Homo sapiens: one gene and its partners. The protein of the gene in region 6 purifies or fractionates together with the protein of the main gene of each other region. This does not show direct contact. Each region holds a gene or a part of one and is shown on either strand. Other genes may lie near its edges.

Region 1 (3,500 bases), on a different chromosome or scaffold from region 6:
CGGCCTCCCAAAATATTGGGATTACAGGCGTGAGCCACCGTGCCTGGCCTTTTTTTTTTTCTTAAAGGACTTTTCCATAGGCCACACAGGTCAGGGAGGCATACGAGGCAGAACAGGTGGGACGGGCATGGCATGCTCTAAATGAGTGTGGTGTGGCGCATAGCAGGCACGAGGACCCTGGGTGGTCTGCGCTGAAGCTATAAACTAAAGGTATGGCAGATGTGAGAGAGGAGGAGTCTAGAGTTCATCCTGGACACGAGGGGTCAGAGAAGTTTCTAGTTGGGGAGAGGCATCTGTGTAACAGACAGCCCCACATGGGTGCAGGGACTGGCAGCCTGATGTAACCTACCACATCCAGACATGTGTCAGGCCAGGCAGCACAACCCCAGCTGCCTGGGCACTCACCCCGCTGGTGCAGCCGAGCAAAGGGCTGGAAGTGCCGAGCATAGCTGAGGGCCTCCAGCTGCTTCGCGGGGCCTCCTGCCAAGAGGCGGATGAAGTGCAGTCGGTGCAGCTTGAACTCCAGGGAGCTGTTGAGTTCCAGCAGGCGCTGCCTGTGGGAGACGGCCCATCTGGGAAGAAAGGGGCCAGTTTAGTGTAGAGCTGGTGGGGGCTAGGACCTGAGAGCCAGCACCTGAGAGGAGGGCCCCAAAAGCCTGTGTGAGGCTCTTGAGACAGGGCTGCAGGCAAGTCAAGTACATCTGGGTGAAATGAAGACCACAGTCAAGCCCTGTGCCCTGAGAGGTCGAAGCAGAATGCTGCTGGCCCACCCAAGGGCCTCCTTACTCCAACGCAGGACCCAGGTCTTGTTCGTGCAGGGCTTCCAGGATTCGATTCAACTCTAGGAAAGGCTGCTTGAAATCCAAGTCCACATTCAGCGTTGATTCCTACAAGGAGAGAGAGAAGAGATCCCACCACTGGAAGATGGTGTTTCCAAAGTTCTCTGCTATGCACATAATAAAAGCTCACCCGCCAAAGACAGGCCAGAGAGCTGGGCTTTGCTTGAGGAGCTTGGTCTCCTGCCAGCCACTTGGGCCTCTCTTGTTCCCATCTCAGTCCTGGGGAGGCTGAGTATGACATGCTGACCTCGAGTGCAGACTGCAGACCCCACCCCACAACCGTAGCAGTGGAGACAGTCCCCAGGCTACGCACTGAGTTGCATGGCGAGAAAATTACTCCTCTTCAATCCTCCTAGTACAGTAGGGAAAATCTTTTACTTTTACCACCAGTGTGTCTTTAACACCTAACAAGTACTACTTTGTCATTTCACTCAGCTCCCTTTTCAATAAAGGGATATGAGGCCTCAGCTCAGAGCCCTGGCTGGCAACCAACTCTAACTAAAAATGAGTAACTTCTCTTTTCATCATATATGTTTTTAAAGCTACCTTCTGCTTCTGGCAGAGGTGCTGATTTCCTTTAGGAAATAAATGGATTTGAGAATGGTAGGGACTTCATACAGTGAAAACTAGCAGGTGAAAGGCAGAGCAGGCAGGTTGTTGCGCCCGCCCAGCCCGACTGTACCTGGCACAGCTCCTCGGCCACGCTGAGCATGCCCTGCTGATACAGGTGTTCCACGATGGCCATCTGCAGGATCTGCTGCTGCTGTTCCCGCGCGTCCCACACCGCATCTGACACAACACCACAGATCTCAGAGTCGAAGTTCTGACGAAGGAGGAGAGACAGGGCCTGGTGATGCGGGCACTCTTGCTGGCTCTCCTTCGAGTCCTTGTACATCCCAGCTTCAGGGTGCTCCCACCCCACGCCTGGAGCCGGCCACGTGCTCACCCTGTCAATGGCTTTGCCCACTCGGGATACACTGCTGTGAATGTCCTTATGGTCCGAAGCCAGTTTCTGCACCGTATCTTTGATCTTCCGGCAGCACTGTGACATCACCAGAGAGAGGGTGGCTGAGAGAGGGGTCCCCTGGAGGGCTGCAGAGAAAGTGGAATAAGGACACAGAGGAGGCAGACTGGGGCACCTGCCTTGGCAGCAGACCTTAGCTCTATTCTAAATGCCAGCCCCGTAGCCCAGGAGGCAGCCCTGAATGCCAGGGTGAAAGAACTAGCTTCTCTTCCAGGTCCTGCCACTTTTTAACTGTCTGACTTGGAACTGCTCAAATGGGAAAAGCCAGTTCACCTCTGGGAGCCTTCATTTCCTCATCTGTGAAATTACTGGTTGCTGTGAAATGAAGATGATCTGGCACTTACTATGGGTCAAGTGTTTATTTCAACTCATGGACTACAGCATGCATAGGATTCTGTTTAACTGCCAGGTTAGACCTAGAGTTACCACCTGATCCAGCAGTTCCACTCCGAAGGATATACCAGAAGAAATAAAAACATATGTCCACACAAAAACTTGTAAGTGAATATTTATAGCAGCAATATTTATAATAGCCAGAAGGTGGAAACAACCCAAATGTCCATCAGCTAGTGGAAAAACATGGCACATCCCTACAGTGGACTATTATTCAGCCATAGAAAGGAATGAAGTGCTGATACAGGCTACAGCATAGATGAGCCTTGAAAACATTCTATTAATCAAAGAAGCCGGACACAAAAGGCTACATGTGGTATGATTCCTTGTATATGAACTGTCCAAAATAGGCAAATCTATAGAGACAAAAAAGAGATTAGTGGTTGCCAGAGGCTAGGGAGAGGGAGGAAATGGAGAGACAGTCAATGGGTTAGGTTTCTTTTGGGGGTGATGAAAATGTTCTGAAATTAGATAGTGGTGAAGATTGTACAACTCTGTAAATATGCTGAAAACCGCTGAGTTGGACTTTATTTTTTAAATTTTCATCTATGTATGTATGTATTTATTTATTTTGAGACCGAGTTATGAGACTGGCTAATACCTGTATTTTTGGTAGACAGGGTTACCATATTACCCAGACTGGTCTCAAACTCCCGGACTCAAGCAATCTACCCGCCTCAAGTTCCCAAAGTGCTGGGATTACAGACATAAGCCACCATGCCCATCCAGAGTTGTACTTTATTTATTTATTTTGATACAGAGTCTTGCTCTGTCACCCAGGCTGGAGTGCAGTGACTTAATCTTGGCTCACTGCAACCTCTGCCTCCTGGGTTCAAGCGATTCTCCTGCCTCAGCCTCTTGAGTAGCTGGGATTACAGGTACATGACACCACGCCCAGCTAATTTTTGTATTTTTTAGTACAGACAGGGTTTCACCATGTTGGCCAGGCTGGTCTCGAACTCCTGACCTTAGGTGATCCACCTGCCTCAGCCTCCCAAAGTGCTGGGATTACAGGCATGAGCCACTGCACCTGGACAGAGTACTTTAAAAGAGTGAGTTTAATGGTAAGTGAATTATAGCTCAATTTTTAAAAAAGACATAGGAACCAGGGACTCCCTCTGGTCAGACCTAAGACAATTTGAACATTAAATAACTGCAATGGATTATAACCTATTGAATAAAATAAGAATATGAGTGTGAAGTGATAATAATGAAAGGAGAAGGGAAAGCTTCTTTTCAGTTGA
Region 2 (3,500 bases), on a different chromosome or scaffold from region 6:
AGAGTCCTGGACCAAAGGCAAGCTTCAGCAACTTTCTTCACCCTTAAGCCTCACTGTGTTTAAGGACGGAGCAGGACAGGACGGAGCAGGACAGGCAGGATTCAGTCAGACGTCCACCAGATGCAGGGGCTCGTGTCTGCACTCCCAACACTTTGGGAGGCCAAGGCAGGTGGATCGCTTGAGTCCAGGAGTTCGAGACCAGCCTGGGCAACATATCGAGACTGTCTCTATTAAATTAAATAAAATTTTAAATCACATGTCCATGTGGGCAGGTGGGTGTATCACCACTTTGATATGGAAATCACTTCACACCAGTTGCTAAAGAGCCCCTGACTAAGCCCTCCAGGTGACCCCTTCTCTAGGCCCTCTTATGGCCTCCAAAGTCTCTGGCCTGCCCCATCCCTGTCTGTGCCCCTGGACACGCACAGGCCCTCATGGCACTAATATGTTTGGCTCTCACTTTTGTGACTGTGATTTATTGTCTGTTCTGTGCGTCTGGATGCCTGACATCCAGTTACGCCTGCTGGCATCTCAGCCAACCTAACCCATGGGAGGACAGAGATGCTGAGAGCTGGTGAGTCCAGGTGCTGAGACCTGGTCAGTCAGACGCTGAGACCTGGTCAGTCCAGGGCTGGGATAGGGAGGCTGGGGCAGGCACTCACAAGAGGCCTCGTTGTAGTAGACGCTGATCCGCTCCAGCTGCAAGTCCGAGTCGCCCACGTAGTTGCCGCTGGGGTCGATGCCATGCTCATCACTGATGACTTCCCAGAACTGCAAACAAAGTGGGAGAGGGGGGGTCGGCACCGGCCCATAGCCCCAGCCAGGCCCTTTCCCTTGTGAAGCCTTTTAGCCCTCACTACAAAATTAGGGCTTTTGACCCACGGCCTCCACGAGCCCCATTCAGAAGAGAGCCCCACACTCTGTTACCTGTCAGAAAATTGCCATAATAAATATGCACCTCCACACCTACACGTCCAGGCCGACCACAGCCCCAGGGTGGGCCAAGGTTCAACAGACCCACACCCAGGTCCCCAGGCCCAGCTGTGCAGCTGCTGGCAAGGGCCTGGAGCAGCGGATTCCTCCATGAAGGGCATTGGTAATAAACACCTTGAGGGTTAGTTTTTACTATCCCCTCTTTTCAGGAAAGGGAACTGAGACACAGAGCGGGTAGAGACACCCACAGTAGCTGGCAGAGCAGGGTTCAGAGGCCCAGAGCTCAGGATCGCTTTTGGCTGCTACACCTGCCCCTCCATGGGAGAGCAAACCATGTCCAGTGATGGTGCCAGGACATTACTGGCCTCAGCTGACGGGACTCACAGGGACTCTGAGAGCCAGTCTCATCGGGGACCCCCAGCTGGGTCTGCAGAAGGGTCCTTGGGGTCCCAAATGGGAAGCGACTTGCCTGAGGTCACCCAGCCTGTCCGTGTGAGGCTGGCATCGTCTCAGCTCCCAGGGGTCGTCCTCTCTCTACCTGCCACCTCCACCTCTCTCCCCCTAGAGCAGGTGCCTGCAGTGCTTCTCGGACTCTGCTCCCATGACAGCTGCCGAGCGGAGCCTAGACTCAGGGGCTGGGCCTGCTGGGTTCACAGACGCTTCCCTCACCCTTCCCAGCTGTGTGACCTTGCACAGGTCACTAGGATTCCGTGTCTCAGTGTCCTCATCTGTACAATGGGCACGATGACAGGAGGTCTTTTTGAAATGAAAGTGGGTTAATCTGTGTGAGGCATATAAATGGTATATGGCAAACGTAGAACTATCTATCTGTGTGCACACGGAGAACCACACCCCTGGGTGAGAGCAAGCCCTTCAGGGAAGTTGCCACCTCATCGTGGGACACGCTCTGATGGCCGAGGCCGCTGCGTCTGGGAGCAGTGTCTGCAGGCAGCAGGCCTCCTGGGACACACGCTGGGAGGCTTCCCAGGGCTGCCTGACCTCTCCCAATGCCCCTTGCCCTTACTCCTCAGGAGTGACTTTTAGATGAGCTGACGGGTATGAAGGCCTCAAGAAACAAGGGGCTCTACATGTGAGTCATGTGCTGCAGAAGATTCCTCAAGAAAAAAGCAGGTTAGAAAACAATTTGGTGGGGCCGGGCACAGTGGCTCATGACTGTAATCCCAGCACTTTGGGAGGCTGACGTGGGAGGACCCCAGGAGTGTAGACAAAGATGCGCTTTGGAATGGAGACACAGGAGATGTGTTTTAAGATGCCTCTAGTAGGCCAGGTACAGTGGCTCATGCCTGTAATCCCAACACTTTGGGAGGCCGAGGCGGGTGGATCACGAAGTCAGGAGATCGAGACCATCCTGGCTAACATGGTGAAACCCCGTCTCTACTAAAGATACAAAAAATTAGCCGGGAATGGTGGCGGGTGCCTGTAGTCCCAGCTACTCGGGAGGCTGAAGCAGGAGAATCACTTGAACCCAGGAGGTGGAGCTTGCAGTGAGCTGAGATCATGCCATTGCACTCCAGCCTGGGCGACAGAGTGAGACACCATCTCAAAAAAAAAAAAAAGATGCCTCTCGTAAAGGGGTGACTTTAGTGGAAACTGCTGTGCAGGAGGCAGGACTGGGTGGTAGCAAGCATGAGAAGCATGAGTCTAGGAATTCATATCAAGACCCCATCTCAAAATAAATAAATAAATAGAGGCCAGGTGCGGTGGCTCACGCCTGTAATACCAACAATTTGGGAGGCTGAGGTGGGCAGATCACCGGAAGTCAGGAGTTCGAGACCAGCCTGTCTCTACTAAAAATACAAAAATTAGCCAGGGGTGGTGGCTCACACGTTCCAGCTACTCCGGAAGCTGAGGCAGAAGAATTGCTTGAACCCAGGAGACGGAGGTTGCAGTAAGCCAAGATTGCACCACTGTACTCCAGCGTGGGCGACAGAGTGAGACTCTGTCTCATAGAATAATAATAAATAAATAGAAACAAAACCACTCATAGCTGGGCACGGTGGCTCACCCCCATAATCCCTGCACTTTGGGAGGCAGAGGCGGGTGGGTCACGAGGTCAGGAGTTCGAGACCAGCCTGGCCAACATAGTGAAACTCCATCTCTCCCAAAAATACAAAAATTAGCCAGGCATGGTGGCGCGCACCTGTACTCCCAGCTACTCGAGAGGCTGAGGCAGGAGAATTGCTTGAACCCAGGAGGCAGAGGTTGTGGTGAGTCGAGATCGCGCCACTGCACTCCAGCCTGGGCAATAGTGCGAGACTGTCAGAAAGAAAGGAAGGAAGGAAGGAAGGAAGGAATGAAGGAAGAAAGAAAGGAAAGAGAGAGAGAGAGGAAGGAAGGAAGGAAGGAAGGAAGGAAGGAAGGAAGGAAGGAAGGGGAGAAAACTGCTTGTGCCAGGCACGGTGGCTCACGCCTGTAATCCCAGTACTTTGGGAGGCTGAGGCAGTGGATCATCTGAGGTCAGGAGTTCAAGACCAGCCTGGCCAACATGGCAAAACCCTGTCTCTACTAAAAATACAAAAATTAGCCAGGCGTGGTGGCGAGCACCT
Region 3 (3,500 bases), on a different chromosome or scaffold from region 6:
GTGCACGGCCTCAGTCTCTGATCCTCTTTGCTCTTTGAGCTCCCGGGGCTCCAGCCCTGAGGATGATCTGACCTCCCATGTGGTCACCCAGGACAGGGCCAGGTGCAGGGCACAGTGCGTGGAAGAGGCCATGCAGCCAGTGGCAGATTGTGGGGAGGGGACGGCCCAGGGCCACGTTCCAGGCTTGGGAGGCTGCTCCAGACCTTGGTAGCTGAAAGTCTCAGTGGGAATGAGCGTTCAGAGGCCAGGACTTGCTCGGAGAATTCTAACCACACCCTGCCTGTTTTATATGTTCAGTTTTCAAAGTAATCAATAGCCACTATAAGAAAAAAACAAAGCCACTTTCAAAGGGTTGTGGTAAGAGGCAGTCCTGTGAGCAGGCCGGCTGCAGGGCCTCCAGGGCTGTGGGGCAGGCTGCACAGGGGCTGGTGGGTCCCATGCCTGGGGGTCTGGGAATAGTCTCTAGGCTGCTGTCCTGGAGGAGGTTTCCCCCAACGCCTGAGACCAGGGCACCATGTGACCCATGACTCACAGTTGCCTGGCTGAGGCAGGCACTTGTTCACCTGGAGCCTCCCTGGGGCCTTTCGGGGCCCGGGGGTGTGGATAGGTGGCTTTGGAGCCACATTTGTCCATCGGGACGTTGGGCTCCCAGCTGGCCTTCCGGGCTTTCCCTGCTCCCAGAACCTCCCTGCTCAGCCCTTGCCAGCCTTACCCCTCCCCTCCACCCTGCCCAGCATGGGGCTCTCCCTGTGTGGATGCCAGAAGCAGTTGGGCCCTCAGGGCTGGTCCCAGGAGGTGCCCCCAGTGAGGTGCTCTGCAGAAACTGCCCAGTCTGGCCTCCTGCTGTCTGTGGCACAGTCTGACTGTGTGTGGTGAGGTCCAGGCCTTCTGCCTCCCACTTACCTGGCCCAGGGCACAGAGACCTCCTTTCCATCCTTCCTCCTGGCCCCCTTTTCGTGTTCCCAAGGCAGGATCTCAGGGTACCAGACTAACCCCTGTTGAACCCCAAGTTTGGTGAGCTTCTGGACCTCCTTGAGGCCCGTGTGCAAAGTCCCCAGTCAAGTGTGCAGTCCTGACTGCTGGGGCGTTGACCACGAAGGGTGCAGGAGCTTCACAGCCAGGCCTGGGTGCTTGCACAGTCGGGGTAGAGAGAGCAATACACTAGATGCCTCCTGTCTGCCTGGTGGAGGCCACGGGGTCAGGATGGTGAATGGGCCAAGTCTGGTAGTGGGGAAGTTGTAAACATTTGAACCACCGGACAGGCCTCATCGGGAAGCATCAGCCTAACCACAGGCCAGGGACAGGCGTCTGAGCAGGCACAGGCCAGGGACAGGCGTCCGACCAGGCTCATGGCTGGGGCCAGGTGGGCCAGGTGGGCCAGGTGGGCCGGGCGATGTGTACACGGCTCCCTTCTTGGCTCAGCTGGGCGCGCTGGGAAGTGCTTGGGGTGCCTGGGCTAGACTCCGAAGGGCAGGGACTCGCCGCTGGAGTTGTCCACGGAGCAGGCCCTCAAAGGTGGGAGCTGGGGCCAGCTCTGGAAATAGACCCCCACAGGGTCCTCATGAGATGTGGGGGACCCAAGGAAGTCCAGCAGGCAGCCTCAGGTGCAGGTGGGGGCAGGGTGGTGTCCAGGCTCAGCCCACAGAGGGTCCTGCGGTTGGGGGTGGGCTAAGGGGACCAGGCCAGGCCCAAAGGGGACCATGAGGGAGGGCAGTCTGGGGCCACTCTGATAGGAGAAGGGGCAGGTGGTCTGCGGCCTGGGGACCTGTAGCCTCACCCCTCCGTGGGGACCTGAGGCACCAGCCGGGCACTCACCGAAGTCATCTGGGACAGGCTTCACCCTTCCGTGGGGGCCTGAGGCACCAGCCGGGCGCCCACCAAAGTCATCTGGGAGAGGCTTCACCCCTCCGTGGGGGCCTGAGGCACCAGCTGGGCGCCCACCGAAGGGCTTCAACACTTGTGCCCAGGCCCTTCGTGCAGGCCCTTCGTCAGACCCAAGAGTGGGCCTGGCTCTCCCCCTGCACTGATGGGACTGGGGCCAGAGCCTGGGGGCCCTGATGCCTCTTGGTCTGAGACCCTCAGCTTAGGGTCAGGGAGGGCTCAGGCTGGGTGAGGCCTGTGGTCCAACGTGCCATATCCATCTCTCTACAGGGCGAGGCTGGCCCTATCGGACCTAAAGGCTACCGAGGCGATGAGGGTCCCCCAGGGTCCGAGGTGAGTCCCACTCCCCACCCACACCCGCCCACCCAGGGGGGCCTGAGGATCCAGAACCCACTGTCTGCCCAGTGCTGGCCCCGTGCCCTCTGAGGACTCTATGGCCCTGGGTGTCCTGGCTCCCGATGGGACCTCTCCCGGCCCCAGGAGGGCCCTGCTTCCCTCCAAGGTCACCATGCTAAGCCTGCTCCCCTCACGCCTCCTCTTCCTCCTCAGGGTGCCAGAGGAGCCCCAGGACCTGCCGGACCCCCTGGAGACCCGGGGCTGATGGGTGAAAGGGTGAGTGTCCAACAGCTCGGGCCCTAGGGCGGAGGCCTGGCCGCCAGAGGCCCTGGGAAGCCCCAGCCCCGCACTGTGGAGCTGCCTGGGGTCCCTGACCGGGCCGGGAGTGCCCGCAGCATCACTGGCTCCTGGCCACAGTCGGCACCTGAGCCAGAGGCCGCCTCGGCAGGGCCCCTCCTGCCCCGAGATCCGGGTCCCAGGGTCCACGGGGACCAGCAGGGTGGCCCCAGGGGAGGGAGCCGGCTTCTGGGCTGACGGAGGGGCCCTGCGGGTGAGGTGCTCCCGGGCCTGTGCCAGCCAGTGGGTATCCCAGGCCAGGCCGATTCGCACGGTGACGGCTACTCTGCTCCCCCAGGGAGAAGACGGCCCCGCTGGAAATGGCACCGAGGGCTTCCCCGGCTTCCCCGTAAGTGTCCGGAGGCTGAGCCCACAGGAACATGCCCAAGCTGCCTGCGGCGCCCTCTTTAGTGGACTGGGCACTCTTGGGTGGGCGGGCTGGCCCCAGGACCGCCGGCTGGCCCAGGAATTCCATGGCCGGGATTCTGTCAGCTCAGGCCCTTCCGCTGTGCGCCCCTCACAGCCTCCCCTCTCAAATCAGAACCCGGTATCACTGCCCTGCTTTTCCATGACAGGGGTATCCGGGCAACAGGGGCGCTCCCGGGATAAACGTGAGTACGCCCCCTCCTCCATCTGGCTGTGGGCACACAAACATTCACAGTCACAGGGACACGCACGTGTGAACACACATGTGCACACAGGCTCCCGAGCAAACACACGGGGTACACAGGCACCCACGGCTGCCCCACTGTCTGTGGCCACAGCCCCAGTTGGCATCGGCTCCTGCAGGCCCTGCGAGGCTCCCACTGTGGTGTGGCCTGTGGGTCTCCTCACGGCCCTGACTGCCCGGTGACCGATCTCCCCTCGGTGCGCAGGGCAGGCCCAGCCCCAGAGGCCGCCCCACGGCTCTCTAGGCCACTCCGGGACCCAGTTTCTCCAGCCCAGGA
Region 4 (2,928 bases), on a different chromosome or scaffold from region 6:
CGAGTGCCACCGGAAAGCCATCATCCTAGCTCTGTCCTTCCAATGCTGAGAGTCACATGTTCCCCCATGGGCATCCCTCTCCTGAGTCGGCTATGTGTGTGAAGCCAGGCCAGGCCGTGTGCCTCAGTTTCCTCATCTTCCAAGTCGGGATACCAGCCACAGAGCCATCTCACAGGGCTTCAGGAGAAACTTCCCAGTACTCAGGACAGGAGCTGGCAGTGAGCATGTGTTGGCTCTCATTAGGACCCCACCTGTCAGCGTCTACAAACATGATGTTCAGTGGACCCAAACCTTTTCTCTTTCCCAGAGGTGGCGGCTGACAGAGCCCAGACCCTGATCCCCAGTCCCTTGTGGTCTCTTGTCTGCTAGGCTGGCCCCTAGGAAGTCTTGGATGAACAGAGGCAGTGGGTTGAGGGGAGAATACCCTCAGCGGGCATCTCTCCAGCGGCCAGTTTGTGTACAGCTGTCATAAGTTTCTCTGGGCCACCCCCAACCCATGCCTGCATCCCTCTCACCTTAGCATCCACTGTCATATCACATGAAGCCGCACCACAGTGCAGTGCTGTGACTGTCGGCCTCCTACTGGCTCTGAATAGTCTCGGCCCCACTAGAGTTCAGCCACCACGTCCTCCCCCTGATGTTGCTGCAGTGCTACCTCTTTGGGGATGGAGGTGTGATCTGTGGGTGAACTGGCAAATCCTGTCCCCACGTGCAAATGAAATCACAGCCAAAGGGCCTCCCTTGTCCCTGACTAGCAAGCACGGGACTTTTTCTCTGCTGTGGATCTGCAGAGGACATATGCCCTTTAGCTGTGGAAGGGATTCACAGAAGGCCAGGGCTGCAACCTGTGACCTCAGACCTCCGCTGGCTGCGAGACGGCGGCTGGGCCCGAGGCGGGAGTGGGCTCGGTTTCCTTCGCTGGCGCACCTTCTGATGATGCCCCGGCAACAGACCTGGCCTGGGGGTGCAGGCTGGCCCTGGATCGCCGGACGGTCTTCTCGCCGGTATGGATCCTCTGGTGGTGGAAGAGGGCCGGGCGCTCACGGAAGGCGCGGCCACACTGCGTACACACGAAGGGCTTCTCGCCCGTGTGAATGCGCCGGTGGCTGAGCAGCACGGCGCCCTTGGCGAAGGCCTTGCCACAGTCCACGCAGCGGAAGGGCCGCTCGCCCGTGTGCAGGAGCTGGTGCTGGGTGAGGTTGGAGCTGTGGCTAAAGGCGCGGCCGCACTGTGGGCAGGCGAAGGGCTTCTCGCCTGTGTGCACGCGCTGGTGCTTAAAGAGCGAGGAGCCCTGGCTGAAGGCAGCACCGCAGAGCGCGCACACGAAGGGCTTCTCGCCTGTGTGCGTACGCTCGTGCTGGATCAGGTGCGAGTTGCGGCAGAAGCGGCGGCCACACTGTGCGCAAGCATAAGGACGCCCACCCGCGTGGATCTTGCGGTGCTGGCTGAGGTTGGAGCCGTGGCTGAAGGCCTTGCCGCACTCGGAGCAGCGGAAGGACTTCTCGGCCGTGTGGATGCGCTGGTGCCGCACCAGCGAGGAGCTATGCCGGAAGGCCTTGCCGCACACGGGGCACGCGTAGGGCGTCTCGCCGCTGTGGATGCGCTGGTGCTGCGTCAAGTGCGACGTCTGGCTGAAGGCCTTGCCGCACTGGGCGCACTCGTAGGGCCGCTCCCCGGTGTGGGTGCGTAGGTGCTTGAGGAGGTCGGAGCTCTTCACGAACACTTTGCTGCACGCCCTGCATTCGAAGGACTTCTCCCCAGCGTGAAGAGCCTCGCCCAGCTCGTCCCAGGTCGAGGGCTCCTGGCCACCGAGGAGTCTATGAGGCTCCTGCCAAACTGCACCCATTCGGTGATGTCCCCGACCGCCGGCAGCCTCCAGGTCCTGGGCGCTCCCAAAGGTTCTCCCAGGGACCTCCTGTGCACATGGTTTCTGCCGCTCAGGCGTCCTGGGCTGCCTCCCCAGCAACGCATGCTCTGTGAGTGTCTTTTCTCTAAGCCGGACGCCCTCGGGAGGCCTAAGCGGGGAGGTCAGTCGCAGGCTGACGCTGGCTTGCCCACTGCCTGAGCCTAGCAGGAGCCTCTCCCAGTAGATCACCGACACCCCCGTGGGTTTTCTCTCCCGAGATGGGGAGGCACCCCGTTGTCTCTGCAGGCTTTTTACACTGTGGCAGGCACCGGCAACAGGGAAGACGCTAGTAGTCATCCCAGGTGGGGTATCTGGGAAAGCTCGTGGCCATTCTCCAGAAACATCTCTATCCTCTGTCAAACTCCAGGAACCTAAAGGCAGAGAAACAGTGGTTGCCTGGGGCATCCTGGTTAGGAGAGGACCAGGGCAGGCTGAGTGGACAGGCAAGAAGGAACCCCGGAGCTGGCACAAAAGCTTAGGGGAAAAGTAGAGGTGAGGCTGGCCCTGCAGGAGGGGCTGGGGTTTGGAGGAACAATCTGCCCTGATAGGTATGGCACTGACTACACTGGGCACTCCCATGATCAAGGTGGCAGCCCCCCGACACCCAGGATGTGAAGCTGAGGAAAACTAGCGGCTGCTGTATGCTGCATACATCTCCACACTGGCTATTCCACCCACACTCTTTCCATTGCTTACCCCCTTCCCCCCGCCCCTGTCCCCCTTCTCAGGCACCCACTCCCCAACCTGCTCCTGCAATGACCTCCATCCAGTGCTCTAGACTATACTCCTGAATCCTGCTTACCGACTGCCTCTCCCACCACACCATGAGCCCCAGAAAAGCAGGACCAGGGTCGTCCTGATTGAGGCTGTGTCTACATTGCCTGGACTGGGCCTGACCACTGTGAGCACTCAGGAAATGTTTGCTGAACACAAAGATGAAGGGTGAAAAAAATGACCCATCAATTATGGCAGTGACTAGCCATGGAGGGTTTGAGGCCAGCCCAGCTGATAGCAGGACTCTG
Region 5 (3,500 bases), on a different chromosome or scaffold from region 6:
TCCAACCTCAACTTCATCCAACACCAGACACACTCGTCCACCAGGCATCCAATCTCAACTTCATCCAAACCAATCTCAACTTCATCCAACACCAGACACACTCATCCACCAGGCATCCAATCTCAACTCATCCAACACCAGACACGCTCATCCACCAGGCATCCAATCTCAACTCATCCAACGCCAGGCACACTCATTGACCAGGCATCCAATCTCAACTTCATCCAACACCAGACATACTCATCCACCAGGCATCCAATCTCAACTTCATCCAATACCAGGCACACTCATCCACCAGGCATCCAATCTCAACTCCATCCAACACCAGACACACTGATCCACCAGGCATCCAATCTCAACTTCATCCAACACCAAGCACGCTCATCCAATCTCAACTCATCCAACACAAGGCATGCTCACCCAATCTCAACTTATCCAACACCAGGCACGCTCATCCACCAGGCATCCAATCTCAACTTCATCCAACACCAGGCACACTCGTCCCCCAGGCATGCATTCAGGGCCCCGAGTCCTGGCCCTGCCTGTCCCCACAGCAGCTTCAGACAGGTCGTGTGCTCGTGGCAAGCCTCCAACACCCTCCAGCAACACTGTCCGGCAGGTAATTAGGGCTTGCAGGAATATCCTGGCAGCACCAAGAACCTATCTTCCCTCTGACATCCACAGGAAACAGCCCTGGCAGAGTTCCCACTGTGAGGTGTGTGCCGGCTCTCTGGGAGGGAGTGTGGGGCTGGCACTGTGTAGTGGGGCCGCAGGTTACATACCAATTCTGGCTTTCCTTTTAGGGTTTCCATACCAAGGTCCAAACTCTCTTTAGGGGAGCTACTAGCCGCTCTACTTTTTCGTCCCGTCTTTGCTTCGTGCTTGTTTTGGCGGCCCTGAGTGGCAGTGTGTCACTCCTGGCTGGTAACTGCGTGCACCCTGCCAAACTCAGCCAGGGTGAGGTTAAAGCAGCGCTCAGTTTAGAAGACAGAAAAGTTTTGCTAATGGAGGCAGAAGTGTTAACATAAGTTAAAACATTTCTGCAAGCCCCTAGGGTGACAATGCCTTTTAATAAGCAGGTTTAAATTTTGTCCTTTAGGAGTCCATTTCTTAAGCTTCTTTTGGTCTCTACAAAAGTCGGTACTCGGCCGGGCACGGTGGCTCACGCCTGTAATCCCAGCACTTTGGGAGGTTGAGGCAGGTGGATCACAAGGTCAGGAGATCAAGACCATCCTGGCCAACGTGGTGAAATCCCATGTCTACTAAAAATACAAAAATTAGCCGGGCATGGTGGCGCATGCCTATAATCCCAGCTACTCAGGAGGCCAAGGCAAGAGAATCGCTTGAACACCGGAGGCAAGTGAGCCAAGATCGTGCCACTGCACTCCACCCTGGCGACAAAGCGAGACTCCGTCTCAAAAAAAAAAAAAAAAAAAAAAAAAAAAAAGTGGGTATTCATTAACAATATCACAGCCCAGAGCTCTGCAGCCTCGCAGATGGAGAATGACTTCCCAACCAGCTTTTCTGTGTCTATGACTGAGCACAGGGAGCCCATGGAGTACCCCCATGGAGCAGGACTGACCTGTCTCCAGGCTCTAAGCCCAGCAGCCCCAACACTCTGTGTGCACATGGTCAGCCTCCTGTAACCCACTCCTTCTGAGCCTCATGCCAGCTGTACACAAACTGTAATGCCAAATGAGGTGCACTTTTCCAGATTTTAGCCTAAAAGTGTAACACAGCCACCAAAAAAACTCCCAAACCCAACCCCCACCTTACAAACCAAAACCAAACTACTGTGAACCACCAGGCAAGGGGGTGCTGGCTCCAGGGCAGGTGGCGCAGCCTCGGCCCCGACCCACTCCCACCCCAACCTGGGAGTCCGTGCACCTTCATCTTCCGGAGCCGGGACTTGTTGTCATGGCACCAGGCCAGGCAGGTGGCCGTCTCACGCCTCTCCAGGGACTCCTCCACCTCTTTGGCCGTCAGGAACATCTCAATATTCACTAGGTCCTTAGAGGAAGGAAGCAGCACCTGATCAGAATGTGCTGGCTCAAGGCCCCCATGCCACCCTCCCACACCCCAGCCTCCATGAGGCAGGCCCAGCACCGGCCACCACTCGAGATGCATCTCCAGTCCACACTGTGGGTCTGCACTCGTGGACTACTCAGGGCCGCTCTGAGATCCTAGGAACAGAACAGCCCCCAAGGACCAAAAGGTCGGACGCTCACGTAGACAGCAGCCATAGCCGGGCAAGGGAGCCAGGCTGGCCCCACCTGTCCATGGAGAGGAGCTGCTGAGACACACATGCAGGCAGGGCCAGGCCACATGCCAGGCGGCCCTGTCTCCACTCCCCACAGCCCCCCAGCACATCTACAGGCCCTCCCTGGGCAGCCCCCTCATTTCAAAATCAACAGTAAGCAAATAATAACATGCTAAATAATACATAAACACATTATGGCTAATATCGCGGTAGTTACAACCAATGATTTATATGAAAGCAAAGAAAAAAAAAAAAAACAACAAAAAAAACAGAGTAACCCAGGCTTAGCATCAAGTCTCCGCTAGTGGCCGGGCACAGGGGGTGGGTGCTCAGTGCCTAGCAGTGGAACCCATGGTCTCTGGCAGGGGCAGGACAGCAGCTGGTACGGGACTCCACCAGGCACGGCAAGGCTTGGGGCAAGCGCTCAGGTGGTCCTCAGCAGCAATGACTCCCGACCTTCCCCAGTGGGACCAAGGACGGCACCTCCGCCTGCACATAGCCCAGGACCCAACGGCCCAGGATGAGGCCACAGTTCACCACTTGGGTCCCACAGCCCCACGTCTGGACCACCGGCCTCACAGATGCGCTGTTTTCTTTGATGATTACTCTTTTCTGAAACCCCTCATAACGTTGTTTTCTTGCACCTTTTCTTTCATGATTTCTTGTTTCTGAAACCCCTTCATAGCATTTTCTTGCATGTTTGCTTTGATGATTTCTCTTTTCTGAAACCCCTCACAGTGTTGTTTCCTTGCATCTTTTCTTTAACGGTTTCTCGTTTCTGAAACCCCTTCATAGCGTTTTCTTGCATGTTTGCTTTGATGATATCTTTTTTAAAGCCCCTTCATAGCGTTTTCTTGCACGTTTGCTTTGATGATTTCTTTTCTGAAGCCCCTTCATAGCGTTTTCTTGCACATTTGCTTTGATGATTTCTTTTCTGAAGCCCCTTCATAGCGTTTTCTTGCATGTTGATTATTCTTTTCTGAAGCCCCTTCAAAGCATTTTCTTGCATGTGTGCTTTTGTTTGTTTTTTTGAGACGGAGTCTCGCTCTGCCGCCCAGGCTGGAGTGCAGTGGCGCAATCTCCACTCACTGCAAGCTCCGCCTCCTGGGTTCACACCATTCTCCTGCCTTGGCCTCCCGGGTAGCTGGGACTACAGGCGCCTGCCACCACGCCCGGCTAAATTTTTGTATTTTTAGTAGAGACAGGGTTTCACCGTGTTAGCCAGGATGGTCTCGATCTC
Region 6 (4,205 bases):
TATGCTGGTAAATGTTTATACCAGCTCTTGGGGTGGGTGGGAGGATGGGGAGTAGAAAGGAGCCCTGATGTGTAGCAATTGCCTATTTCCTTTGTGTAAATACTCCCACCATGGCTGATGTCAAGCTGCAAGCATGTAGTCACTGAGCATGGAGTTGGTAAGAGATGTGCACCATCAGTTCTCCTGAGCCAGTACAAGCCATCTCCAGCACATCATTGCCTGCCACATTAAGGAAACCTTAGCTGCTGGCCTGAGGCTTGGCACCATCAGATGCTACTTTAACACATTCAGAAAGAACTTACTGCACCCAAGATTTGGCCCCTGACTTACCCAGCCCCTGAGGTTGCCTCCAATCCAGACCTGGGCTTGGTTGACTGTGCTAGTGCAGCACTGAATGCGATAGTTGAAGTTGAAGTCATGGATAGAGACAAGGTTGCCTCCGTAGCATCTGCTGCAGACATTCTGCAGACGGAAACAAAGTAGAGAATTCCCTCTCATTTATTTCAAGTTTCTGAGTCTCCAGGCAAGAGCCCGGCATCCCTTTTCAGGTTAAAAATAAACCTACTTGCCTCCCTTAATCCTATCTTTTGCTTCTTAATTAGCTGTCAGGACAATCCTACAGGAAATGATAATACTCATAATAATTATAACCACCGCTTATTGAGAGTTTATTACAGCCCAGTGACTATTCCAAACACTTTTCATGTATTATCTCATTTAATGCTCACCACAACTCTAAGAAGTTGGTGCTATATATCTTCGTTTTACAAATGAAGGTGCTAAAGCTTTGAAAGGCAAAGCAACTTGCCCAGGTAACACAGCTAATAAAAGGCAGAACCAGAATTTAACACAGGCGTTTCTAACACCAAAGCCTTTTGTTTAAATCGGTGGTTCTCCCCAGACCAACAATATCATCATCACCTGGGGATTTGTTGTAAATGCAAATTCTCAGGCTTCACCTCAGCCCTCCTAAATCAGAAGTCGTGCAGGTGAGGCCCAGAAAGCTGTGTTTTAACAACAACTCCAGGTGATTCTGATGCATGCGAGGCTTTGAGAACCACTAGCCTAAATGAATAGGGAACAGAAGACTGAATGTACTCTCTTTTCCCCCAGGTCCTCCGCAGTAGCCTCCCTACTACTTACCTGAGCTTCTGCAAAAGTTTTAGGAGTCCGCACCAATAGGTAGCGGCAGATCTTGCACCTTGGACTTCCCTGCACTTCAACAATGTCTTCTTCCCTGGGGCACTGGAAGTCCTTGTCTAAGGCAGCTGGGTCCGACTCCATGGCTTCCTCATCCTCAAAGTTGTCTTGACAGGCAGAAGCCTTGACCTCCTCTCCCTCTGCCTGAATCACCTCCTCCGTCAGAGCCAAGTCTCTCTCCTGCTCCTTTGAACTATCCAGATCCTGGCCTAGGTCTGCCTGTGTCTCTAGGCTCTCCAGATGGGGGGCATCATTCTCTGGGAAGAAGAGGTAACCTGCCATCAGGTCAAGAGCTTCCTAGTTCCAGCACCGTGGACAGCTCCAGCAACGTCGCTCGAGCTTTCCTAGGAATTCCACCTGAAGACAAGACTGGAGGATTTCCTTGGTGTTAGGTAAGGAGAGATCTCTCGGGTCACACCCACAAATGGACAAGAACCTGACTTCTGGCCGACACCACGAGTGTGTGTTTTGAAGGTGGGAGAAAGCACGTGTGAGAAGCCTGGGGCAGTCACCAGCCCTTCATCTTAACAGGTGGGTGGTTTTTCCTTCTGAAAGTTCAGGTTACAGTTTGCCGGGTGCGGTGGCTCACGCCTGTAATCCCAGCACTTTGGGAGGCCGGGGCGGGCGAATCACAAGGTTAGGAGTTTGAGACCAGCCTGGCAAATATGGTGAAACCCCATCTCTACTAAAAATACAAAGATTAGCCAGGCGTGGTGGCATGTGCCTGTAGTCCCAGCTACTCAGGAGGCTGAGGCAGAAGAATTGCTTGAACCCGGGAGGCGGAGTTTGTGGTGAGCCGAGATCGCGCCACTGCACTCCAGCCTGGGCAACAGAGCGAGACTCCGTCTCAAAACAAAACAAAAAACAAACAAAAAAAAAAACAAAAACAACAACAACAAAAAAAAATCAAACAAAAAAGAGAAAGTTCCAGGTTACAGTTCTGAGTCCAAGTGATATCTTACCGGAGATGAGCTGTATCAGCTAAAGAGGGAAGGCTGTGGTCCTGGCCTCATGAGTGCAAATAAAAGCGGGGGGAGGGGAGTGTAGGAAAAAGGAAAAAAGGGAAAGACGCATGAGGAGGGAAGGGAGAGACTTACCCAGATGAAGAGCAGAAACTGTTCCCAGCAGGAGAAAGGGCAGGAGCAAGAGGCATTGCATATCTACTGTCTTTTAGCGAGGACACTACTCCACCGTCCTTCTTGGGGCTGTCTTTGTGTGTCTAGTATAGCCCCTGGCACATAGTATAGAGGGAATATTTGTTTAATTGTTTGATTAAAGAGCAAACAAGATTGCTTTCTCCTCTTGCCATGAACAGACCCTGAGCTGGAGAGTCTAGAAAAGGAATGGTGGGAGGGATAACTCAGGTACCAAATTTCATTTGTCTTCCAGTCTCCGTTGCTGCTCTCCAGTATCACCCTTAGCCCAGACTCCTGCCCCTGCGGGGACAGGTCTGCTTAGCTATGATGTTCCTAAGGACAGGCCTCCTACGTGTTTGCCCTATGAGGTGCTGCTTCTTCCCAGGGCCTACACTGGTCCTGCCTGGGCAGCCAGAAAAGAACTCACCTTCCAAGAGTCTGAGACCTCCACTCTCAGTGCCTCTGGCTTCAGGGGCCAGAAGCAGCCTTTATACTGGGTTTTTGGGGAAGTGGGAAGAGGCCAGAATGATTGCTCCAGGACAGAGTGGGGGACAAAGGAGCTGATAATGAAGTTTGCTCAGTCTTCTCAACCCTGTGCCCTGCTCTCTGCTGGGACTGCAGGGACCTGCCTCCTGGGGCCTACTGCCTTGTTTGGGTACCCCACACCCTGGTTTGCTTCAGAAGGCCCTAGATGTTATGTCCATTGTCCAGGCATAATTATTATTTATGCCCCCTAAAATGCCCCAGTCTGAACAACACGCCTTAACTCCAGGAGTAGCCTCCTGCTGGTGGAATCCCAGAGAGTGAAGTGGAGATCCCAGGGAGCTGGTGGGAGACAATGGGGGGAAGAAACAAGAGGGGAAAGGGAGGTTCAGTGCTCCCAAGCTCTCACCCATCCTAGGGGCATAGTGTGCAACACACCCCTCACCCTCATCTCCGCATCATCTCCACCAGGTACCACCCCTACTTCACAGAGGCAAAATGTGAGATTCAGAGAAAGAGAGAAGGCAACTTGCCAAGGTTCCATGGGAAGTGGAAGAACTGGAATTTCTAAGTCTTTTTGACTCCAAAACCTTCTCTCTTTCTTTCCTCTCTCTCTTTTTTCTCTCCCTTCCTCTTTCTCATCTTTTTTTTTTTTCTTTTTGAGACGGAGTCTTGCTCTGTCGCCCAGGCTGGAGTGCAATGGCAAGATTTTGGCTCACTGCAAGCTCCACCTCCCGGGTTCAAGCGCTTCTCCTGCCTCAGCCTCCCAAGTAGCTGGCTAATTTTTTGTATTTTTAGTAGAGATGGGGTTTCACTATGCTGGCCAGGCTGGTCTTGAACTCCTGACCTCGTGATCCACCCACTTCGGCCTCCCAAAATGCTGGGATTACAGGCATGAGCCACTGTGCCTGTCCTCATCTTTTTTTTTTTTAAGAGACAAAATCTTGCTCTGTCACCCAGGCTGGAGTGCAGTGCTGCGATGATAGTTCACTGTAACCCTGAATTCCTGGGCTCAAGTAATCCTCCTGCCACAGCCTCCTGAGTCACAGGGATTACAGGCACAAGCTTTCTCATCTTTAATGTGTGAAAAATCTACATCCTTTCTTCTGTGCTGTGGATCTAGATCAAGGTTCCTCAACTTTGTGCTATTAATATGTGAGGTCAAATAACTCTTTATTGTGGAGGGGCTGTCCTGGGCGTTGTAGAAAGTTTAATGGTCCCTCTGGTCTCTACTCACCAGATGTCAGTAGCCCCTCTCCCCACCCCCGCAGATGATCAAAAATGTCTCCACATGTTTCCAAATGTCCTCTGGGGAGAAAAATGGCCCCAGTTGAGGATCTCTGATCTAGGATATGCCACCTTGCCCAACCTCAAGGCATAGCTTCA
Region 7 (3,500 bases), on a different chromosome or scaffold from region 6:
CTCTTCAGCAGAGGCAGAGCCAACTGCTGACATCAGACTTAAGGGGTTATACTCAGTCCCAGCTTCATGGCATCCAGCCCATCTGTCTTTGAAAACCTATTAATCATCAGCTCAGCAAGTACTCACTAAGCTCTATTACCACTTGGCTACCCATTACATTAGCTACTGGGAATTTTTAAAGAGTTTGGCTATATTTGCTCCTAAAGCTATTTTTAAGGGATAAAACACAAAATATGTACATAAATCCCACTATTCAACAATTTGTTTTAAAAAAGTATGTGCATATGTGTATAAATTTATTAAGTTTAATGCTGTCACTCTTACTACTCTCTTGCATTCCAAAATGGTGTCTTGAGTAGAAACATGAAAGTAAAGGGCAGCGGGTGCTATGGTAAGTTCCACACAAGCCCAAGTGGCTCAGAGGGTTTTTTCTTGTCAAGCCATGTGAACATCTTCTGGAGAAAAAGCTGTGAATCACTGAACTGACGAACATATCGCAGTATGTCCCTGCTTGCAAATTTTATATATTGCAGTATGTCCCTGCTTGCAAATTTTATATTGAATCAAGACTTAAATAGTTTGACCTAGTTAATTTTTTGCAAGATTGTTTCTGACAGAGACATAGTAGTTACTCATGGCACTTGATGGAACTGTGATCTGTTCTGGAACCCCAGCCCCACTTCACTCCCTGGAGCCACATGCCCTTCTTACCCATGCACATGGTCTGGTCCTGAGAAGCCTTAAAGCCATTGTGGCAGATGCACTGGTAACTTCCTTGCAGATCAACACACAAGCCATGACTGCAAACGTTAGGAATTTCTAAACATTCATTGCGATCTAAAACAGAAAAAAATAAATGTTACATGTATCTGATTTTTATTAAGATTTCTTCATTTTTCACAGTTGTGTTTCTCTAATCTGCTATTAATTATTATAGGCAGGCTGAAAATGAACCATAACAACAGCTGAATCAAAATGAGCAGGACTTCAAAGTATCCAACCCTCTTTTTTTAATCATGCAAATTTTTTTATGTTTATTGGTATCTGAAGGATATTATTTTATTTTAGGTCCAATCCTGGGGAAATCCATTGAAGAGATCTATTTTCTTAACAAAATCATCTAAAAGATATGGTGAAATAGGTTCACTATAAATGAACAGGTTAAGTGAGAAAATCTTTCCCAAATTATTCTTGAAGTATTTTTTGATAGGAAATCTAAGGAATCTTGTGCTCAGTGCCAAAGAATGAGTCAGCCTCTTTCTTACCTACACAGGCCCCATTGGGTGAAAGTTTGAAACCCGCGGCACATTCACAGCGGTAACTACCAGGACTATTGATGCAGTCTGCATTCCGCTGGCAGAGATTATCACCATTGCTGCACTCATCTATATCTGAAAGAGCAACAATTCCATTTTAAAGAGTCCTTTTTAGTATTGTATTAGCATTACATTCACGTCACACTTTGATGATCAACTCTTGAAAAATTGTAGAAGAAATAGTAAAAATCAGAAACCATCTAAATGCTATATATGTATACCAAATTATACTGGATAAAGGACATACTTTATTCAGATTACCTTCACAAACCAACAGCAGGTCATTGTAACTGAATCCTGTAGGGCATTCACAGCGGAAACTGCCAATCTGGTTAATGCACACACCATTTGCACAAATGCCTGGAATCTCTTTACATTCATCAATGTCTGAAATGGAACAGATTTGGTCAAATATATGTTGTTCTGTTTAATATACTTACCATATAACTTTGAATAATGCTACATGTACCCTGGGATGAGTACAAATATTCAGTGTCACAAAAATCTATTATATACTAGTATAGCTAATTTTTTTGGTTTATAAAAACATATATACCAGAAAATAGAAACAGTGATGGAAAAAATCTAAGTAGCTGATAAAATATACCAAGTAATTTCAGAGTCAATATAGCAAATGAACTTTCTAGGCAATCAAACCCCTTCTTCAGGTTACCCTAAGTGCTGCTATTCATTTGTTTAAAAAGCTATGTTTTCATCATTGTATGTATTTTATTTTATCATATATTCATAATGGAGACTTAAAATTATATTGCTTAGGCCAGGTGTGGTGGCTCACGCCTGTAATCCCAGCACTTTGGGAGGCTGAGGAGGGTGGATCACCTGAGGTCAGGAGTTCTAGACCAGCCTGACCAACATGGTGAAACTTCCATCTCTACTAAAAATACAAAAAATTAGCCGGGTGTGGTGGTGGGTGCCTGTAATCCCAGCTACTCAGGAGGCTGAGGCAGGAGAATCACTTGAACCTAGGAGACAGAGGTTACAGTGAGCTGAGATCGCGCCATTGCACTCCAGCCTGGGCAACAAGAGCAAAACTCCATCTCAAAAAAAAAAATTATATTGCTTATCAAATCTTTGAGGAAGGAAGCTAGAGTGAGCAACACAATGTACATTTAGAAGGAATTAATTAATATGAAAAATAAGTCTGCACATTCATATTTAGACCAGTAAAAAGGGATACTGCAAAAATACACCAAAAATTAAAAAATGTACTTAAGAAAATAGCAACTAAAGGTTAAAATAAGGTAGATTATTTAGAGTCATGTAATACAATGTGCATGACAAGGACAACTGAAGCTTTAGCTTGGTGGATGTGACAAATATCGAGAGAGTCACATAACTACCATAACCCAATCACCAGACTACGCTGATGGAGTATCATTATTAATACTTGGTTAGAGTCTGTAAGCCTGTTATTTCTCTCTTATCTAACTATATTAGATTGGATCCCAGATTATTATATTTTGTGGTACTCTTGAATTTTAAAAACATAGAATAGATTTTTACAGAATGCTACACATATGTATTAAAACAAACATAATCTGGAAAAACTCACCAACAGCTTTTCCTGTGTGAATGTCAAAGGTGAATCCAGGAATATTTCCACATATGGTTTTAAAGTCAGCTTTAAAATATAAACAAAGCAATGCACTCTTAAATTTCTCAAATTCCTTCAAAATAACATTTTGTATTACTTTCACAAACAAATATATTTTACATTATTCACAACCAGACATTTTGATTTCAATTATATTTATTTGATAGCAATGCCAGCTTCTGCTAGGAGTGGATCTAGGCATTCTTTACCATTATTATCATTGTTATTTCTATTACTCTCATTAACTTTTTACTGCTCTGATATCAGAAGGCAAGTAAATCATTATAAGATTCAAAATGTCCATTTAGATATTTAAATACTTTTTCTTTTAATATGCAGAGCTTTAAAAAACATCCAATACATAAAGATTAAAAAAAAAGAGAAGTACAAATTGAAAAAGGAATTACAGATTGCACAAAGGTATAGACATGCAAAAATAATGTTGTAGAGGGGAAATAGGTAAACAATGTATAATGAATGAGATGCGAATTTTGTCTTTTTTTTTTTTACTGTGTCTATTGGAATGTGAAATTTGAGTCATCAAAAACAATGCATTATGAAATAAAATA

What was found.
Region 1: the proteins of PRG3 (region 6) and RMND5B purify together in Homo sapiens (affinity purification with mass spectrometry; 2 studies listed by BioGRID and IntAct, with this or other methods). This does not show direct contact.
Region 2: the proteins of PRG3 (region 6) and TUBB3 purify together in Homo sapiens (affinity purification with mass spectrometry; 2 studies listed by BioGRID and IntAct, with this or other methods). This does not show direct contact.
Region 3: the proteins of PRG3 (region 6) and COL6A1 purify together in Homo sapiens (co-immunoprecipitation; 2 studies listed by BioGRID and IntAct, with this or other methods). This does not show direct contact.
Region 4: the proteins of PRG3 (region 6) and ZNF324 purify together in Homo sapiens (affinity purification with mass spectrometry; 2 studies listed by BioGRID and IntAct, with this or other methods). This does not show direct contact.
Region 5: the proteins of PRG3 (region 6) and MAEA purify together in Homo sapiens (co-immunoprecipitation; 3 studies listed by BioGRID and IntAct, with this or other methods). This does not show direct contact.
Region 7: the proteins of PRG3 (region 6) and FBN2 purify together in Homo sapiens (affinity purification with mass spectrometry; 2 studies listed by BioGRID and IntAct, with this or other methods). This does not show direct contact.

Annotation. Positions count from the first base shown.
Region 1 is NC_000005.10:178,141,014-178,144,513, reverse strand, and holds part of RMND5B (E3 ubiquitin-protein transferase RMND5B), read right to left. Parts: intron 1,932-3,500; coding exon 1,786-1,931; intron 1,663-1,785; coding exon 1,522-1,662; intron 888-1,521; coding exon 787-887; intron 573-786; coding exon 406-572; intron 1-405. UniProt on the Homo sapiens protein: Core component of the CTLH E3 ubiquitin-protein ligase complex that selectively accepts ubiquitin from UBE2H and mediates ubiquitination and subsequent proteasomal degradation of the transcription factor HBP1.
Region 2 is NC_000016.10:89,929,842-89,933,341, reverse strand, and holds part of TUBB3 (tubulin beta-3 chain), read right to left. Parts: intron 772-3,500; coding exon 663-771; intron 1-662. UniProt on the Homo sapiens protein: Tubulin is the major constituent of microtubules, protein filaments consisting of alpha- and beta-tubulin heterodimers. Microtubules grow by the addition of GTP-tubulin dimers to the microtubule end, where a stabilizing cap forms.
Region 3 is NC_000021.9:45,995,270-45,998,769, forward strand, and holds part of COL6A1 (collagen alpha-1(VI) chain precursor), read left to right. Parts: intron 1-2,151; coding exon 2,152-2,214; intron 2,215-2,430; coding exon 2,431-2,493; intron 2,494-2,851; coding exon 2,852-2,902; intron 2,903-3,128; coding exon 3,129-3,164; intron 3,165-3,500. UniProt on the Homo sapiens protein: Collagen VI acts as a cell-binding protein.
Region 4 is NC_000019.10:58,470,080-58,473,007, reverse strand, and holds part of ZNF324 (zinc finger protein 324A), read right to left. Parts: intron 2,278-2,928; coding exon 854-2,277; 3' UTR 1-853. UniProt on the Homo sapiens protein: May be involved in transcriptional regulation. May be involved in regulation of cell proliferation.
Region 5 is NC_000004.12:1,320,891-1,324,390, reverse strand, and holds part of MAEA (E3 ubiquitin-protein transferase MAEA), read right to left. Parts: intron 2,011-3,500; coding exon 1,888-2,010; intron 1-1,887.
Region 6 is NC_000011.10:57,378,351-57,382,555, forward strand, and holds the start of PRG3 (proteoglycan 3 precursor), read right to left. Parts: upstream 2,801-4,205; 5' UTR 2,764-2,800; intron 2,432-2,763; 5' UTR 2,359-2,431; coding exon 2,298-2,358; intron 1,458-2,297; coding exon 1,144-1,457; intron 463-1,143; coding exon 331-462; intron 1-330. UniProt on the Homo sapiens protein: Possesses similar cytotoxic and cytostimulatory activities to PRG2/MBP. In vitro, stimulates neutrophil superoxide production and IL8 release, and histamine and leukotriene C4 release from basophils.
Region 7 is NC_000005.10:128,304,246-128,307,745, forward strand, and holds part of FBN2 (fibrillin-2 precursor), read right to left. Parts: intron 2,959-3,500; coding exon 2,890-2,958; intron 1,704-2,889; coding exon 1,578-1,703; intron 1,392-1,577; coding exon 1,266-1,391; intron 838-1,265; coding exon 712-837; intron 1-711.